2 separate regions of the Homo sapiens genome follow, and region 1 is linked to region 2. The links come from fine-mapping of genetic effects on gene expression. A gene starts in region 2. The other region holds a variant in brackets. All regions are shown on one strand. Distances are from middle to middle. Region 1 overlaps LITATS1 (lncRNA induced by TGF-beta and antagonizes TGF-beta signaling 1). Region 2 holds the start of LITATS1 (lncRNA induced by TGF-beta and antagonizes TGF-beta signaling 1).

Region 1 (8,400 bases), 21 kb after region 2:
GCTGGAGCGTAGTGGCGCAGTCTCGGCTCACTGCAATCTCCACTTCCCAGGTTTATGTGATTCTCCTGCCACAGCCTCCCAAGTAGCTGGGATTACAGGCACCTGCCACCATACCCAGCTGATTTTTGTATTTTTAGTAGAGACGGGGTTTCACCGTGTTGGCCAGGCTGGTCTCAAACTCCTGACCTCAGGTGATCCGCCCGCCTCGGCCTCCCAAAGTGCTGGGATTACAAGCATGAGCCACTGTGCCCGACCCCATGCTTCCTTTTAATTAGGAACATCACTTCCTTTACATGCCACAACCTACCTGAAGTTTTGACGCCAAGCCCCCACTTTCACTGAGCTGGCAAACACGCTCCTTTGAGTCACTCTTGAAGTTTTAAGTGCACCTTGCTCTGAAGCAGAGTCAAGACCTGGGAGTGAGGGGAAAGATTTGTTGTCCCTTGGTTGTCTGTTCATCCCGATCATGGCTGAGGCATCTAATGTCCCTTTCTGAAGGTGGCCTCATATCTTCAGCCCTCCACTGCTTCTGAGCCGTGCATGGGACTTGGGGATCTACGAGGGGCCCAAGGAGTGCCATGTAGCACTCCTGCTTGTGAGGACAGCTCTGTTGGTGGGTCTGCCGGCTCTATTCTAGGTCACATCAGAGATCTTCCCGAGAATAACCCATGCTGGCTAAAGCATCGGATTGGGTGCAGTCAGAATTGAGGTCAAATCCTGCAAAACCTGTTTTCCTCATCTGCAGAATGGAGAAGATGCTAACAATACCTCCCTCATCGAATTGGTGTGAAGAATTCAATGTCTTGGTGTTTGTAAAGGGCTTAGGATAGTGTCTGACATGTAGTCCATGGGATGTCTTGATGCAGGTCATCATCTCACCCTTGTTCATTATTGGATGGAGAAACCAGGGTCCCAGAGACACTGGCCGGCTGGGGCAAGATCACCACTCATTCCTATCAACAGCTGGGTTAAAGGTGCAGAAGACATGCTTATTCGATTTGCAGGTGACCCAAAACTAGATGCAGTGGCTGGTATTTTAAATGACCAAACAAGAGCCCAAAATCCCCTAAAGCGGATGAGATGATGGACTAACCCCTCTACGGATGGATGTAAAATTAAAATTTTTTGCATGAAAGAGATTTTGGCTGAAGGTTCATTGCACATTGAGATGGTTGCCCCAAATGATTGTGGTCTCAGGCTGAGTCTGTAGAGGTACAGGTTGACGATGAGGGAGGTGATAGCTGGAGGGTTGTGCTCAACTCTGGTTGTCGTACATTTGAGGAGACAGGGAGAGACCAGAGTCCAGTTTGTGGAGGGTAAAGGTTAGTGAGGAACTGGGGATACTGATCTTGCAGAAGAGAAGACTCAAAAGGGCAGAGGCAGGAACAGTGGTATAACCCTGCCTGGCTCCAAGGGCAGAACTGGCACCCATGGAGATAACAGGGGCCTGAGAACCAGCTCTGTGGCTATCAGAACTTTCCCACAGTGAATCAGAGTGCCTTCAGAGGTGGTGAGCTCCCCATCACCAATGGTATGCAAGCAGAGTGAGGAAAGGATTCCTGTTTCCAGCTCTCAGATGGTTTTATCAACAGCAAAAAAACTAGACCCTACTGATAAAAATTTCTGTTGGCTATATATACACATATAGTTAACAAATATGTAATCCATATTTCCCCTATTTTAAGGTTTATTTTATTTTATTTTTGAGACAGGGTCTCACTCTGTCACGCAGGCTAAAGTGTAGTGCAGGATCTTGGCTCACAGCAGCCTCTACCTCCCGGTTTAAGCCATTCTCCCACCTCAGCCTCCTGAGTAGCTGGGACTACAGGCTCCTGCCACTACACACCTGGCTAATTTTTGTATTTTTTGTAGAGACGAAGTTTCGCCATGTTGCCCAGGCTGATCTCAAGCTCTTGGGCTCAAGCAATCCACCTGCCTTGGCCTCCCGAAGTGCTGGGATTACAGGTATGAGTCACCACGCCCAGCATACTTTAAGAAAATGAATATTATAGAAATTGGGACTAATTTACAATCAATGCGTAGGTTTACTGTATCCTTCCTTCCTGAAAAGTTGTTATTTGAATCAAAATGAAGTATATGATTGAGCAGGTTTTTCTGACACTCTGTTTTTCATCTTTCAATCTGTTTTTCACTTTTGTCATTAGAATGTATGTCTTGAATTTAAAAACAAAGTATCTAAATAAATAACAAATATTTTAAAAATCCAGCCTTCTTAGTGAAGCCACACTCAATCTATTGAATACATCTTCTGCTGACATTCCACCTTGTCGCCGCCATCTTGGCCTCTGAAATAGAATGGAGACCGGCTATTAAACCAGTTTTTAGCAAATTCGGAGCAGCAGGTTCTTGGCTGGGGGAAAAAAATTCCACTTATCAAGAGATGTTTATTCCTTCAAAGGGTGAGAACCTACTTCTTCATAAAGAGAATTTGGAGGGAGCTTTTTGTTCTGCGGGGACAACATCTGGATTTGAATACATCCATGCTCAAAAGGAGATTTCTCATAATGGACCCAACTGAAAGCACTCAGAGTACAAGGACCGGTGAGCTTTCAAAAGGAGACACTTCGGGAGACTCGCCAGGGGCCCTCGTATCCCCGGCAGCGCGAGTTTTGGAGGTCAGTGGAGGGCTCTCGCATCATGCATGTAACTTTCATACTCAAAAACTTACCTTCATCCTGCATCCCTCACCCCCCTGCAGAAACTTGGGGCTTGAATTCATTTAAAAACATTTGCGGTTTCAGAAGCCTTCTTTTTATTATGAAGCTGCCAAGGAGATCTTAGAATGAAAGGCATTTTTAGAGATGAGAAAGAAGGAAGCCAGGCCAAGGCTGGGCCGGCTCTCAGCCGTGGGTCTGTAAAGGTGACACGTGGGACATGGCCACCTGCAGACCCTGCAGGCGGCTGGGCAGAGGCACCCACAGGGACCTGGGTTTGAATCCCTGCTCTGCCAGTCATTTCCACAGCGATCTTGGGGGAAGTTGTGTAACCTCTGGGCCCTGCGACGCCCTTTCCTGGAGCCTGGAGCTGGAACGAAGCCCCTTGGAGCCCTGACATCAGAGGTGACGTTAGTCTTCGCAGGCAATGACTCGGCGGAATGTGATGCCACTCCCTAACCCGTGTCCGGACTGGCAGAGTGTGTGCCGCCTCCCACCAGGTGGTCTGGCTGCTTTGATGGATCTCCTAACTTCTCTGCACCCCAGAGCCCTCAGTGCTGGCCAGACCTTCACTCACTCCTGGGTGACAACCCCGTTCTCAGATAGTGGGTCCCACAGGCTGGCCTGTGGCGCCCCCTGCTGGTGACTGCAGGGAGAAGGATGCCCTAAGCCAAAGGAAGTCCTTCCTGGGGTCTAATCTCTACCTTTTGCATGATGAGGCAGCTGAGGTGGCTCGCTTTCTCCTCCACCCCAGAAAATAAAGTCATATGGAGTCCAAGCAGTTATTTTTCTCTGCTAGGCCAGTCCATCATAAGCCCCAAATGGAGGGGCCCCTGGAATGAGCCCTATGCAGGCCTTCTATGGACAAGGGCCCTTCAGGGAGTAGGGCTGTGGTGAGGATGGGGTGCATGTGTGTGGGCTCTCACCTGGGTGTGGGAAGATCAGAGGGACCCCACAGGTCAGTGTTTGCAGATGAAAAAATGAAGGTAGGAGCTGGGCACGGTGGCTCACGTCTGTAATCCCAGCACTTTGGGAGGCCAAGGCAGGTGGATCACGAGGTCAGGAGATCGAGACCATCCTGGCTAACATGGTGAAACCCCGTCTCTACTAAAAATACAAAAAGTTAGCCAGGTATGGTGGCGGGCTCCTGTAGTCCCAGCTACTAGGGAGGCTGAGGCAGGAGAATGGCGTGAATCTGGGAGGCGGAGCTTGCAGTGAGCCGAGATCGCGCCACCGCACTTCAGCCTGGGCTACTGAGCAAGACTCCATCTCAAAAAAAAAAAAAAAAAAAAAAAGAAGGTAGGAAGCTTCAGCCTGAAGGTAAAGTTTTGGGGCAGCTCCAACCCACTGCCCTCCTGGGACCGGTTTTATCAGCGTTTCCCTGTAATTGGTGAAAGGCCTTCAGTTAGCCATTTCTCTGAAGATTAGAGAAAGCAAGAGAGATGTGAGTTAAACACAAGGCGGGACTTCTCAATGATGGGGGATGTCAGACCTCAGAAAGGGGAGCAAAGGAACCTTCCCACTGAGGGCAGCCTCCAGTGAGGTGGGGTCCAGGCCAGGCGGGTGAGATGGCCCTCAACACTGTCCATCTGGAGGGGCCTGGGACTAGGTTGTAGTCTATGGGGGTCTCAGGATGGAAAGGCCTCTTGAGAGGCTCCTGGTGGCTGGGACTTTTGTGGATGGGATGGTGAGGACGGGCAGGGGGAGAGACTGAGGCCCAGAGGCATTGCCACCCCCATCCTCCCCCGCCTGGTAAACTCATCTTCCTGACTCATTGGCTTGCCTCCTCTG[C/T]GGACACTGCCTGGTCCCTGTGCAAGGTCACGTTGCTTGCCCTCCACGAGCTCCCGTCCTGCTGCTGAGCTCATGTTCTGTGATGGCAGCCTCTGTGTCCATCCTCCCTGCTGGACTGTGGGCTCCACACCGGCTGAGACCTGACTGTCTTGCTCCAGCCTGGCTCTAACTCCAGCACCTGGCACATCTAATCTTGCCTGGCATGTCCTGGTGCTCAGTGGCTTCAACTGAGAAGAGGCCCAGGGTCTTCCTTGGTCCAGCTAAGCCTGGCTTTAGAAAGGATTGGGGCAGACGTAGGGGAGGCAGAGCCCCAAGTCTTGATGGATGGGTGACCTGGGCACTCTGACTTTCTGCACAGGGCTACCCCTTTCCCCCATTGAGACACCCTCCTAACTCAGCTGTAGGCTCTGACACCCCACTTCTGGCTGGCTCTGGCTTCCCACACTGGAACCATCCCCTGCATGGCTGCCTTGCTTTGTCTGCCTGGGCTCTGACACCCATATCAGGCTGACCCCATAGGGGTGACAGCCCCTCACTGATTTGTACTCTGACACCCCTGGGCCAGCCTGCCTTCCCCAGTGGTCCCCCTCCTCACTCTGCTAGGAATCCTGCTGTGTTCATCCATGGTTCCCCCATTCCCTTGCTCTGCTGCACATAATAGTTTTAGGACTGAATTGTTGAGGAAGGAAAGGAGAGAGGAGGAACAGAACTCTGTTTTTGAAAAATTATTTTAACTGTGGACATTTTTGTGCGAGAAAAATTTTGGACAGAATACTAAATGGAGCTGCTCTGGTTGAAGAAAGAGTGAAAGAGAGGGAGAAAGAGAAGAGAATGGGAAAGGACAGACAGCAGAGAGGAGAGGGAGAGGGGAGAGAGAGGACAGGGGAGGGAAGAGGAGAGGGGAGGGGAGGGGAGAGATGAGGGGAGGGGAGGGGAGAGGAGAGGAGGAAGCCCTTCAATGCCCCTGGAGTCCTGCCCACTTGGTCCCACTCCCTCAGAACTCTCATCTGTCATTAAGCTCTTGGGGTTCCTAGGTGTGCAGTTTGGGGACCACCGGACAAGAATTCTGCCTCAAATAAAATGAGTGCCACTTAGCCGCTAAGATGTCTTCTCTGAGCTTTTCTGAGAAGCAGCCCTGGAGGCAGCGGGCTCACCACCTACCCTGAGTAGCTTCTGAGCCTGGCAGCAGTCACCTGGAGCTTGAGGGTAGCAGCTGCCTCTGCCTGGAGGAGGCATCTCTGAGCAGGGCCAGGGGGCCCTGGACAGGCATTGGAGGTGTCCTTCCGGGCCTGGTGGAAGTGGGCTAGGGGCTGTGAGTGAGAAGACTTCTATAGGCCGAGGCACTGGGTAGACACCTCACCCCCAGCCATCTGTGGACCCTTTGTGACCCTTTATGCTCCATCTCTGTCTCCCCCACAATCACCGGAGAAACAGGATCTGGGAATTCTGCCTTGGTGGCCGAAGCAGAAGTCACTGCCCTCCTAATGCCACTCATCGGACCACACAACACTTTCACCGCCAGTCCTTGTGTGATTTGATCTTTGCAAATCAGAGATAGTACTGTTAATAATTTCCCTGCAGGAAAGAGGAAGTTAAGGATATGAGGAATTGCCGTCAGGATCAGAGGTAAGGCCCGGAATCCCAACAGACTCCCATTCCCAGCACCTTCCGGGCACCCGCCTTCGAGGCCTTTCCCCTCCCTGCCGCTTTATAATGCTAATTGAGGGAATGAGTTTCCTTGGCCTGAGAGTGGGCTAGGGCTGGGGCTGGGACCCAGGGCTTAGGCAATCCCAAGGGTCTGGAAAGGAAAACAGGTCAGGAGTAGAACCCTTTCCCAACACCATGGGCCAGCTCCCAGGCCCCATCTTGGGCGTGGGGGATTTGGAGTAGGATGACCATATAATTAGTCATCCAGATTAGGATACGTTTGGGAATGAAAGGGAGTGTCATTAAAAGTTACCCTAGGGCGGCCGGGCGCGGAGGCTCACGCCTGTAATCCCAGCACTTTGGGAGGCTGAGGCAGGTGGATCCAGAGGTCAGCAGTTCGAGACCAGCCTGGCCAACATAGTGAAACCCCATCTCTACTAAAAATACAAAAATTAGGCTGGTGGCTCACGCCTGTAATCCCTGCACTTTGGGAGGCCGAGGCGGGTGGATCACCTGAGGTCAGGAGTTTGAGACCAGCCTGGCCAACATGATGAAACCCCATCTCTACCAAAAAATTAGCCTGATGTGGTGGCGGGTGCCTGTAATCCCAGCTACTCGGGAGGCTGAGGCAGGAGAATCGCTTAAACCCAGGAGGCAGAGGTTGCAGTGAGCCAAGATGGTGCCACTGCACTCCAGCCTGGGTGACAAGAAAAAAAGCTGGCATCGTGGTGTGCACCTGTAGTCCCAGCTACTCAGGAGGCTGAGGCAGGAGAATCGCTTGAATCCGGGAGGCAGAGGTTGTGGTGAGCCAAGATCGTGCCACTGCACTCCAGCCTGGGCAACAGAGCGAGATTCCATCTCAAAAAAAAAAAAAAAAAAAGTTACCCTAGGGCAATAGCTGAGAACCCCCACGAGGTCATTCTGTGATGGAACCCCTGCCCTGCCCTCCCCCTCCGCAGCTTCAGACCCCCACACCCTCTCCTGCTGCTGTGTCTCCAACTGATGCTGAAAGTAAAAGCCGCCACTCACTGGCCGGTTACCTGCCCAGCACTCCACAGAGCTTGTTTTTTGTGACCTTCATGACAGCTGTGAGTCTCATTTTATTGATAGAGACACTGAGGCCCAGAAGAAACTGGCCCAAGAACACACAGGTGGTGAGTGGTAGAGCTGGGATTTGAACCCAGGGAGGCTGGCTTTCCTTGGAAGGATTATACGAACATTTTAATTGGTTTGGCCCACAAGAATTGAATTGCGAAGGAATGAGGCTTCCCAAGCCTTTCATCAGACCGTCCGCAGTCTCTTGTAGCTGTCTTCAGCTCAGGGACATCATTAAAAGGAACTTTGCAGCTTGGGCAACAAGGTGAAATCCTTTCTCTACTAAAAAAAATTTTAAAAATTAGCCAGGCGTGGTGGCGCGAGCCTGTGGTCCCAGCTACTACTTTGGAGGCTAAGGTGGGAGGATCACCTGAGTCTGGGAGGCAGAGGTTGAAGTGAGCCGGAATCGTGCCACTGCACTCCAGCCTAGGCGACAGAGAAAGAACCTGTCTCCACAAAAATATTTAAAAATTACCTGGGCGTGTTGGCACGTGCCTATAGTCTCAGCTACTCAGGAGGCTGAAGTGGGAGAATTGCTTGAGCCCAGGAGTTTGAGGCTGTAGTGAGCCATGACACTCCAGCCTGAGTGATAGAGGGAGACTCCGTCAAAACCAAACAAAACACAAAACAAAACAAAAACCCAAAAAGGCCGGAGAGGTGGCTCACACCTGTAATCCCAGCACTTTGGGAGGCTGAGGTGGGAGGATTGCTTGAGCCTGGGAGTTCTAGACCAGCCTGGGCAACATAACGAGACCTTGTCTCTACAAAAAAACAAAAAAAACTAGCTGGGCATGGTGGCATATGCCTGTGATCCCAGCTACTTGGGGAGGGGTGCTGAGGTGGGAGAATCCCTTGAGGCCAGGAGGTCGAGGTTGCAGTCAGCTTTGATTGTGCCACTGCACTCCGGCCTGGGTGACAGAGCTAAACCCTGCCTCCTAAAAAAAGGAAGTGGGTGGCGGGTATGGGGGAGGGGGATGTGTGGGCAAGGGAAGGAGGGAGGTGCACTCAGCAGGGGCAATGTGTAAGGAGTATGCAATGGAAGGGAGGCAGCCGGATGTCATTAGTCAAAGTTAACATTTGTTATGGACCTACTGCATACCGGGCTCTATTTAAAGTGTTTTCAAGGTACTATTCTATTTAATCTTCATACCAACCCTATAAGCTGGGTTGTTTTACAGATCATCACTACGAA
Region 2 (8,400 bases):
CAGGGCCAACCACATCCTGTGGGTGTCTTTAATGGGAGTGGGGGAGGTAAGGGGTGATAGCTGGAGCCCTAAGAGAAGCTAGGGAGGGAGGTGGGGCAGCTGGGGGCCATGGAGGCTATTTGGGGGCAAGACTGGGGCACCAGGGTCTGAAGGTCTCTAAATTGTAGGGGAGACAAAGTCCAGCCCAGGGCAGCACTCATCCTTCCCGGTCCCTCTGCCACATCTGCCAGCCTGCTTATAATAAAAGTTCCCATTTGCTGAGAGCTGTGAACCAGGCCCTGTTATAAGTGTCTAACACTGAATCATCAGCAAGCTTGTGAGGAGGGCACTATACCATCATCAACTCCTTCCCTGTTTTTCAGATGAAAACTGTGGTCCAGAGAAGGCAGCTTAGTCACCAGGGTCACACAGCAGTTAACGGTGGAAGAGAGACGCAAGCCCAGGGCCTATGCTTATCACTACCCTGTACGTCAATGCTCAGGCAGGTACGAAGGCAGGCACAGACCCTGATCGCAGGGAATGAGCAGGGATTCGCAGGCACTGAGCTCCCGCTGGTGGCCAGATATATGGCTTCATTCTTATAGGGCTTGCTACCGTGAAGGAAAGGAAGGTCACCTGGCTAGTGGTAAGAGACAGTCAGAACTCGAACCCAGGTCTGGGCCACTCGGTTGCCTTCCTGTCTCTAACAGAAGATCCAGAATTTATTTGGGAGAACAAAGCTCCCAAAATTGAGTTTGAACAAAGTGTGTTATGAGAGACAGGTGGCGAACGGGAGAAACAATGCTGCTGGCAAACTCCTGCTCTTCCTTCAGAACCCTTGTGAGATGTCACTGCCTCTGAGAAGCCTTCCCTGACCTGCCACAATAGGTCAGGTCCCTGGTCTGTGTCTTCACAATGCCCAGTGCTTCCCCCATCACATCACCCCCCTTCCTTGGGCCTTCTGGCCTGCCTCTCAAAACCATGGCAGCTGGGTCATCCCAGGCCTGGCTCCTTGTCTCAGGTATGCAGTGTGCGCATGTATCCGCCCACCTGCCTCCCTCCGGGCACATGATCCTAGGCTAGTATCTTGGAGCACTGGGAACTAATGGGATGCCAGGGCTCTCAGGGCAGTGCACTGCCTGTGGGCACTGAAAATCTTGGCTGGGACAAGTCGGTTCTCAGCAGCCCTAGCACCTGAATATTCCCTCAGCAGATGGAAAAACTGATCAGTGGGCGCTATCAGAGCCCTCCTCCTGGTAGAGCACATGAGGCCTGGAGTGCCCCCCTACAGCTAGCTTTAGTCTCTTTCACTGCACTGGAGGAAGCGCTGCTGGCACAGGAAAACCAGACATCCCTGCCCCCATTCCAGTTCTCTTTGCCTGTAAGGTCAGGGTCCCCCAGCCGGGCTAAGCAGACACTGATAGGATGTGTGTGTAGAAGACTCCAGCTAGGCTGCTCCTGCCCCAGGACAGAAGGCAGGGCTGGGCCAGCCTCCCCAGGTGAAAAGATATGCCTGGGCTGGGCCTGGCGAGTGGAAAAAAATTCCCTTAGAAGGAAACAGAGGTGAATTTCCCCATGATTTGCATATGATGGGGGGGCTAGCCCGCCTGCCCCTGGGGAGGGGGGGTGGCCGGGCAGGAACCGAGTAGCAGCTGAGACAGGAAGTTTGAGGCTGGAATTCCCCTCCTGCCACTACCCCAGCTCAGAAACCCCCGAGGTGGGTGCGTGGCTCTGCTTCTCAGGAGCAGGCTCCTCTGAGCACCCCTCATCACAGCCCCTCCTCCCATGTCCCTCCTCCTTCTGGATACAAACACATACTGCATATGGCTGCTCCCAGGGCTCAGCCGCTCCTGGCCCATACCTCCAGAGGAAGGAGTCACACAGATCCAACCTAGCTCCTAGCCCAGCTACATGAGGCTGGACACTGAGAGGGACCCCTTCTAATCTCGAAGCATGGGCTGTGACCTGCTGCCTCTTGGCATGGAAACTGGATTTTCTCAGCCTCCCATCCAGGCTCAGCCCAAGTCAGAGAGAGGAAGACTGGCCTGAAGGTGACAGAAGGAGGGAAGAGCACTCAGCTGCATGCCTGCTGAGCTGGGCCAGGGCCAGCTGGACAGTGAACTTGTCCCACAGGGGCCACAAATTAGGGAGGGCAGAGGCTGATGTCATGCCAGCCTTGGGCAGCCCACCTAGGAGCTCCCTCAGGGCAGCCAGAAAATCATCCCTTCTCAACCCTGTGTCTGGGGTCTCCCCGTCCATGCCAACAGGAACTTTTCCCTGTGAGCCATCCACCCAGCACTGACTCATCAGCCTGCCTTGGAGGGAACTGGGAAAAAAGTGGGGCCAGAGGGTGGAGCCTGGATTGACGGGAGAAGTCTGGGTTTCCCAAGGTCAGCAGCAGCCCTGGCTTCCCTCTCTGCCCCTACCTCCCCACCCCATTCCTGTGCTGGGGGATGGGGGTGGGAGTCACTGGGGGCTGAGTCCTGGCTCTGGCCCCGGGGAACCTCCAGAGACTGGTCCAGCCCAGGCTGCTTCAGCTGAGTCAGTAGGGATCCAAGTTGCAGCTCGCCTGAGGCCAGAGCATCAGGCCACCTGCCCACAACCCATGTAAAGCTGGACCCAGCCTTGAGGTCACTCTTGGACACAGTCACTGGACCTGTTTTCGTGGGAGCCCAGGTCTGAGACAAGAAGGCCTCAGAAGCCCAGCCCCTGAAATAACAACAACAACTGCTACTACCACTGCCTACTACCACTACTATGGTTCCTGAACGCTTGCTCCTCTCCGGGATCCGCACACTCCCTCCTCACAACACCCACCTGAGATCAGGTTCCGAGGGGTGAGTGAGCAGCTGCCCACGGGCTGGTCCCCTTTACAGCCCTGCCTCACATTACAGGAGAGGAGTGGAGACACAGTGCTGGCCTCAGGGAGGGACCCACAGCATAAGGTAAGCTCTGCGGACAGAGGGACCTGGGCTGGAACCCTGCCTCTGTCACTTACCAGTAGCGCGACCCTAGCCTCATAAAAGGCTTTCCCTCCCTCTAGACCAGTCCCTAAGAAGGAAGTCACTTCTTCCAGCCCACCAGAGCTGCAGAGACAGTCATCCTTCCATGTGTCCTGGCCACAGGAGAGATGCGAACCTCATGTGTCCTGGCCACAGAAGTGACACTTACCTCATGGCCACGTTGCTCCCATCGATGACCACTGGTCTCAGGTCGCTGCCCTCCTTTTCCTCTTCTGGGAGTGGAGGCTCCAGGTTGGGAGCCTTAGGGGTGCCACCACCCCGCGGGACTAGAGGGAGCTGAGGGCAGGGGTCCGGTGAGGTCTGGCGCTCCCGCTCGGTGGCTGTCCCGTGTTTCACCAGCTCACCCAGCACCGTGTTGGTGTCTGCCTGGACGCCCAGCTTCTGCAGGACGCTGTGGATCTCCGTGGATGAATAGCCCAGCTTCCGGAAGAAGTCCACCTTCATCTGCAGTTCCAGGGCCGAGGCCTCCTCAGCGGCCAGCTCTTGACCCGGCCTTGGGGTGCCCTGACGGCTGTGGCTGTCCTCAAATTCCCACAGACTCATGGTGGGGCTGGCTTCCAGGACAGGCTTCTCTCCACAGGGGCCACTCATAGCTCAGACTCCTGGAAGGCCCCGCGCCACAGCTCCTACTGAACAACCAACAGGGTTAGGGACGGTGAATAGCGCTCTCTCCTAACCTCCCTCCCAAAACCACATCCAGCAGGATGAGGGATTGGTGGCACTACACACTGCATCGTGTTATTAGTTCAGGTTGTCCTCTCAAAAGCTCTCCCAGCTAGGCATTCCCATTCCCATTCTATAAAGGGAGAAACTGAGGCACAGACATTAAAAACGTGCTCAAGGTCATCCAGCTGTTAGCTGGTGGCTCGAAGATCGGAACTTAGTCTGAACTAAGACTGGAACTACCCCAGCTGTAAAGCCTCGAACCCCCACGCCAACCCAGGGGACCCAGAAGGCAGGGACGGGGCTCTCAGATGGAATCCTGGGGCTGGAAGTGCGTTGCGGGGCCCAAGGCTTCCCCACTGAGGCCACCACTTTCGCCCACCCGTCCGGCACTCAGAGCTCAGGCCCAGGCAGCGCAAGGCCCATGGCCGGACTCCCGGAGCCGGGGAGGGCAAGTTTCTGGGGTGACCCGTGGGGAGAAAAGTTGCTGGAAAACTTTGGTTGGCTGCCGGGAGCTGGTGACGCCGAGGCTGTCCCGGCCCGAGACCCGCGCTTGCTCGGCCCGCGATCCCGATCAGGAACCTGGTGCTCTTCCCCGGCTCTCCCAACTTGGGCAAAGTTGGAGGGGTCCTGAGGCCCGGCGGGCCGGGGAACAGGACCCCGACCCTTCCGTCCCCTCCCCTCTCCACCCCTCCCGTCCCCTCCCGTCCCCTCCCCTCGGCTCGGCTCGGACCCCGCCGGAGCGCTCCCTGCCGCTTCCCCGCCGAGGCCCGCACCCTCCCCGCCGCGCCTCACCCCGCCATGCGCCAGCGGCGGCCGGCGGCGTCTCCATGGGGCCGAGTCCTGGGGGTAAGGACGGCGGCGCCTTTATATGGGGCGGCGCGCGGGCAGGTGGTGGTGAGGCACTGACGCGGAAGCGGGCAAGGGGCGGGGCCGTCCCGGGAGACCGCCCCGGGGGCGGGGCTGCCTCGCCCCTTCCTGCTCCGCTCCTCGCGTCGCGGCCCCGCCCCCGCGGCCGCTGCGCGCCGGACGGGGCCCAAGCGGGGGTCGGAGCCTCAAGGCTGCGGCGGCGACGAGCTCCGAGCGGGACACTGAACGGCCCGTATGCGCAAGATAAGCACGGACTGAATCAGGTACACGCACCTGCCGGGGACGCACTGACCGAGGTGCGGACGGCGGTACCAGGACAGGTAAAGCCGCGAACACTCGGACCTAAGAACTTGACAGGTACACCCTGCCTGATGAAGCTACGTACGGCCAGGTGCGCATCGAGTGAATCAGGTACGCGGAGGTTGGTCCACGCACCTTGGAGGCAGGTCCATGGTTATAGACAGGTACATCCAGACAGGCACTTTTCAGATGGAGTCAGGCCCCCTCAAGACACACTGTGCTTAAAGCCGTCACACAGAGGTTGGCCACCCCCGGGGCCAGGTACACTTTTCCTGAAATCTGTACTTTACTAGGACCAAAAGGCAGGTTCAGTCAGCAGATGCACAATGACCGAGGCAGAAAACCAGGCAAAAGAGGGCCATTTACCCCAATCACCACATGAATACTGTCCACACAAGAATACTGTCACCCATACCGCAGAACTCACTGAGCGCCCCCACTGGAGGAGCACCCTTGCTCCATGAAGATGCTTTTAGTTTCCCAGGTCAGACCTGATCCCTCGCATGAGCACAGCACTTTACAGGCTTACACTCACGGGCTTACAGACAGAGGTCATTATGCTGATGTTACCCTTGAGAAATTCTGCAAAGGCTAAACTGCCCCAGCTGGAAAGACTCGAACCAGGATGGAGAGCTCCTATTCTAGTGCTCCTATTATTTGCCATTTTTGTGAACCACGAGTGACTGAGGGCAGAGGGGAGCCTGGCTTCCTATGTGTGTGTGTGTGTGTGCGTGCGTGTGTGTGAGTGAGAGAGAGAGAGAGAAAACACAGAGCCCACACGCTGGAGGACAGAGCCACATGCCACCAGTGCTTACTATGTGCCAGTCCTTTGTTACATTCTCTCTACCTCATCATAGGCATGTATCCTATAAGTGCTAGTGTTATAATAAATACTTGTTTATTGTAAAAGACACCATAGACACAACTGTACATGTACAGCTTAAAGAATAATAGTAATAATAAAAAAGCCATGTATCCATCACCTAACTTAAAAAATAGACCAGTGCCAGTACCTTGAGGCCCTCTGGGTGCCCCCATCACAGCCTCCTGCCCACATCCTGAAGAACTAGTTTCCTGAACTTTAATTGTGCTAGTCATTCTCTTGCTTTTTCTTGTAGTTTTACCACCTCTGTATGCATCCCTAAGTGGGATATTGTATAGTTTTGCTATTTTTTACTTTGTGTAAACGGAGTCATTCCATAATTATGTGACTTCCTTTTTCATACAGCATTATATTTTTAAAAATCCATTTTGATTGCCTGCATACCTGTAATTTATTTTACTACTGAATAGTGTCCCATTTTATGAATATACCACTGGTTACTTATTCAGTCACCTGCTGTTGGATGTTGTTTCTAGGATTTTTTTTCTATTACAAAGACTGTGCTTTGGATATTCTTGTATGTATCTTAATGAAATTGTACAGTGGAGGAAATGGATGTTCAGAGATTCAGAAAGGTGAAGTCACCTGCTCAGGCTCTGGGGGCTGGTGGAGCTGGAACTCATGTAGCTCTCTCCAAGGCAGTCCATCTCCCCATCCACACCTGCTTGTTCGGGAGGCCACCAAAGACCCCAGGGAGGCAGGCGTGTACGTCTCTATCTGGACCCTGAGGCTGTTCCTCTGGGCTTGCTTGCTCTTACCTAGCGGTGTTCCTGCTTTGTTGCCTGGTCATCTTTGAAGACCCCAAAGTGTCCCCTTCTCTGCTCCCCAGGCACAGCAGCTCCAGGGGCTTGGCAACCCAAGGAGAGAGGAAACACAAGGCCCCCTGCTGCATGCCAGCTCACATCCCATGCTGGGCACCTCACATGCTTGCTGTCACTCCAGCTGAGTGCGGTGCCGGCGGCACCCCTAACCTCACAACAGTCCCTTTTACAGATGAGAAGAGCTCAGTTATGTTAAGCATTTATTCGCTATAGCAACTACCTTTAAGATAGTAAAAACATTAAGTGATGTGTCCAGGTTAATAATGATAATGACAATACTAATCAATCATAGAGATAATGCCTCCCATTTATAGAGTGCTCACTGGGTGGCAGGCACCAGCTAGCGCCTTGCAGACACTTTCGGGCCTCTGCTCTGCTTCTTCCTTGGCTTGGAGTGCCCTTCCCTCTCTCCCACCCAGCTGCTTCCTAGCCAGTTCCATTCATCTTTTGGATGATGTCACCTCCTCTGTGAGGCCAGCCAAGACTCCTTTGATGCTGGTTGTACCCTCCTAAGTGTCCCCACAACACCCTGCCTATGTCCCAACGTGTTAGATTGTCTTTGCCAGCCTGAGACCTCCTCTGGAGCTGCAACAAGACCAGACTCTGCTCCTGCTCCCAGACCCTCTGCTGCCCAGCCCTGTGCCAGTAGGAGCCAGCAGGACTAGGCGATGAGTCATGCTGCTCCCTGCCCTCCCAGAGAGAGCCACAGTCTCGCTGTCTTCCGGCTCATGCTACTTCCCAAGAAGCCGACTCTCCTCTACAGAACCCACGGCTTCTTTGGGGAACCCCTGCTCCGTTTACAGCTGGATTTTGCAAACTTTGGCCCTAATCCCCAGGAGTTCTCTGAAGCCGAGCCCACACAAACCCCTCTGCCTCTCGTATGCCTGTCTTGGCAGCTGGGCTGGCTAATTTCCTTCTTGGAGCCTGCCTGGCCTCCCACCATCTATCTGCCTGTGCCCAGCCAGCGTAGGTGGGGTCTGCAAAGCTTGTGGACTGGTCACTGCCTGAGGGTGGTGGGGGGTTGGGAGATGAGGTTGGAGAGGGAAAGGTCCCAGGAATGACCTTGGCTTTCAGTTGCTTCACTGGGCAGCTCAGCCTGGGGAGGACCCGGGAACTGGGCTACCTCTGTAGAAAGGCTGGGCAGGCTGCCCTCAAGCCTTAAGGGAGTGGCTGCTGAGGTGATGTTTAAATTCAACAAGGCCTCCTAGAAGTGAAGAAAGGACCAGATCCCTCCCATGTTTGAGACTCCTGGTATATTTCTTTTTATTTTTTATTTTCGAGATGGAGTCTGGCTCTGTCGCCCAGGCTGGAGTGCAGTGGCGCGATCTCAGCTCACTGCAAGCTCCGCCTCCCAGGTTCATGCCATTCTCCTGCCTCAGCCTCCCGAGTAGCTGGGACTACCAGTAGCTGGGACTACAGGTGCCTGCCAACACACCTGGATAATTTTTTTGTGTTTTTAGTAGAAACGGGGTTTCACCGTGTTAGCCAGGATGGTCTCGATCTCTTGACCTCGTGATCCGCCCGCCTTGGCCTCCCAAAGTGCTGGGATTACAGGCATGAGCCACTGCTCCCGGCCAGACTCCTGGTATATTTCAAAAAGACATGTCACAGCAGGGCTACAAAAATCAATGTATGTTTTAAACGGTAACTGAACAAATTAACTCTTTTTTTTTTAAATCATGCATTCAAATGCGGTGCAATATATTTGGACTATTGACAAGATAATTGGAGAACTTGTATTAAAAATACATTATTTCCTTGGAGAGATGGCTGATTTTAGGGCTGGGACAGGGAAAGGATGAGCCGGCAGTGTGCTGTGGTGCCAGGGATTTAGGAAGCGCTCAAAACACAAAAGGATGGG

Evidence for each region. PIP is the estimated chance that this variant, and not a neighbour inherited with it, causes the effect.
Region 1: its variant is fine-mapped to the expression of LITATS1 in unexposed skin (GTEx, PIP 0.92).

What each region holds. Positions count from the first base shown.
Region 1 is chr1:37,449,932-37,458,331 of GRCh38, reverse strand. It overlaps LITATS1 (lncRNA induced by TGF-beta and antagonizes TGF-beta signaling 1), which reads left to right. Exons shown (of 3, transcript NR_038842.1): 2 at 1,873-1,965; 3 at 2,420-3,453. Among named protein-coding and RNA genes, the nearest start is that of LITATS1, 20 kb to the left of the region's middle. RefSeq lists enhancers at 2,493-3,014, 3,015-3,536, 2,385-3,584, 5,582-6,372, 5,775-6,974. The variant C/T (reference allele first, on the strand shown) is at 4,467.
Region 2 is chr1:37,470,690-37,479,089 of GRCh38, reverse strand. LITATS1 (lncRNA induced by TGF-beta and antagonizes TGF-beta signaling 1) reads left to right here and starts at 4,647. Exons shown (of 3, transcript NR_038842.1): 1 at 4,647-4,946. ZC3H12A (zinc finger CCCH-type containing 12A) reads right to left here and starts at 4,510. Exons shown (of 6, transcript NM_025079.3): 1 at 4,461-4,510; 2 at 3,151-3,631. The coding sequence starts at 3,593. RefSeq lists enhancers at 1-165, 1,556-1,855, 3,566-3,665 and silencers at 4,316-4,775, 5,236-5,335.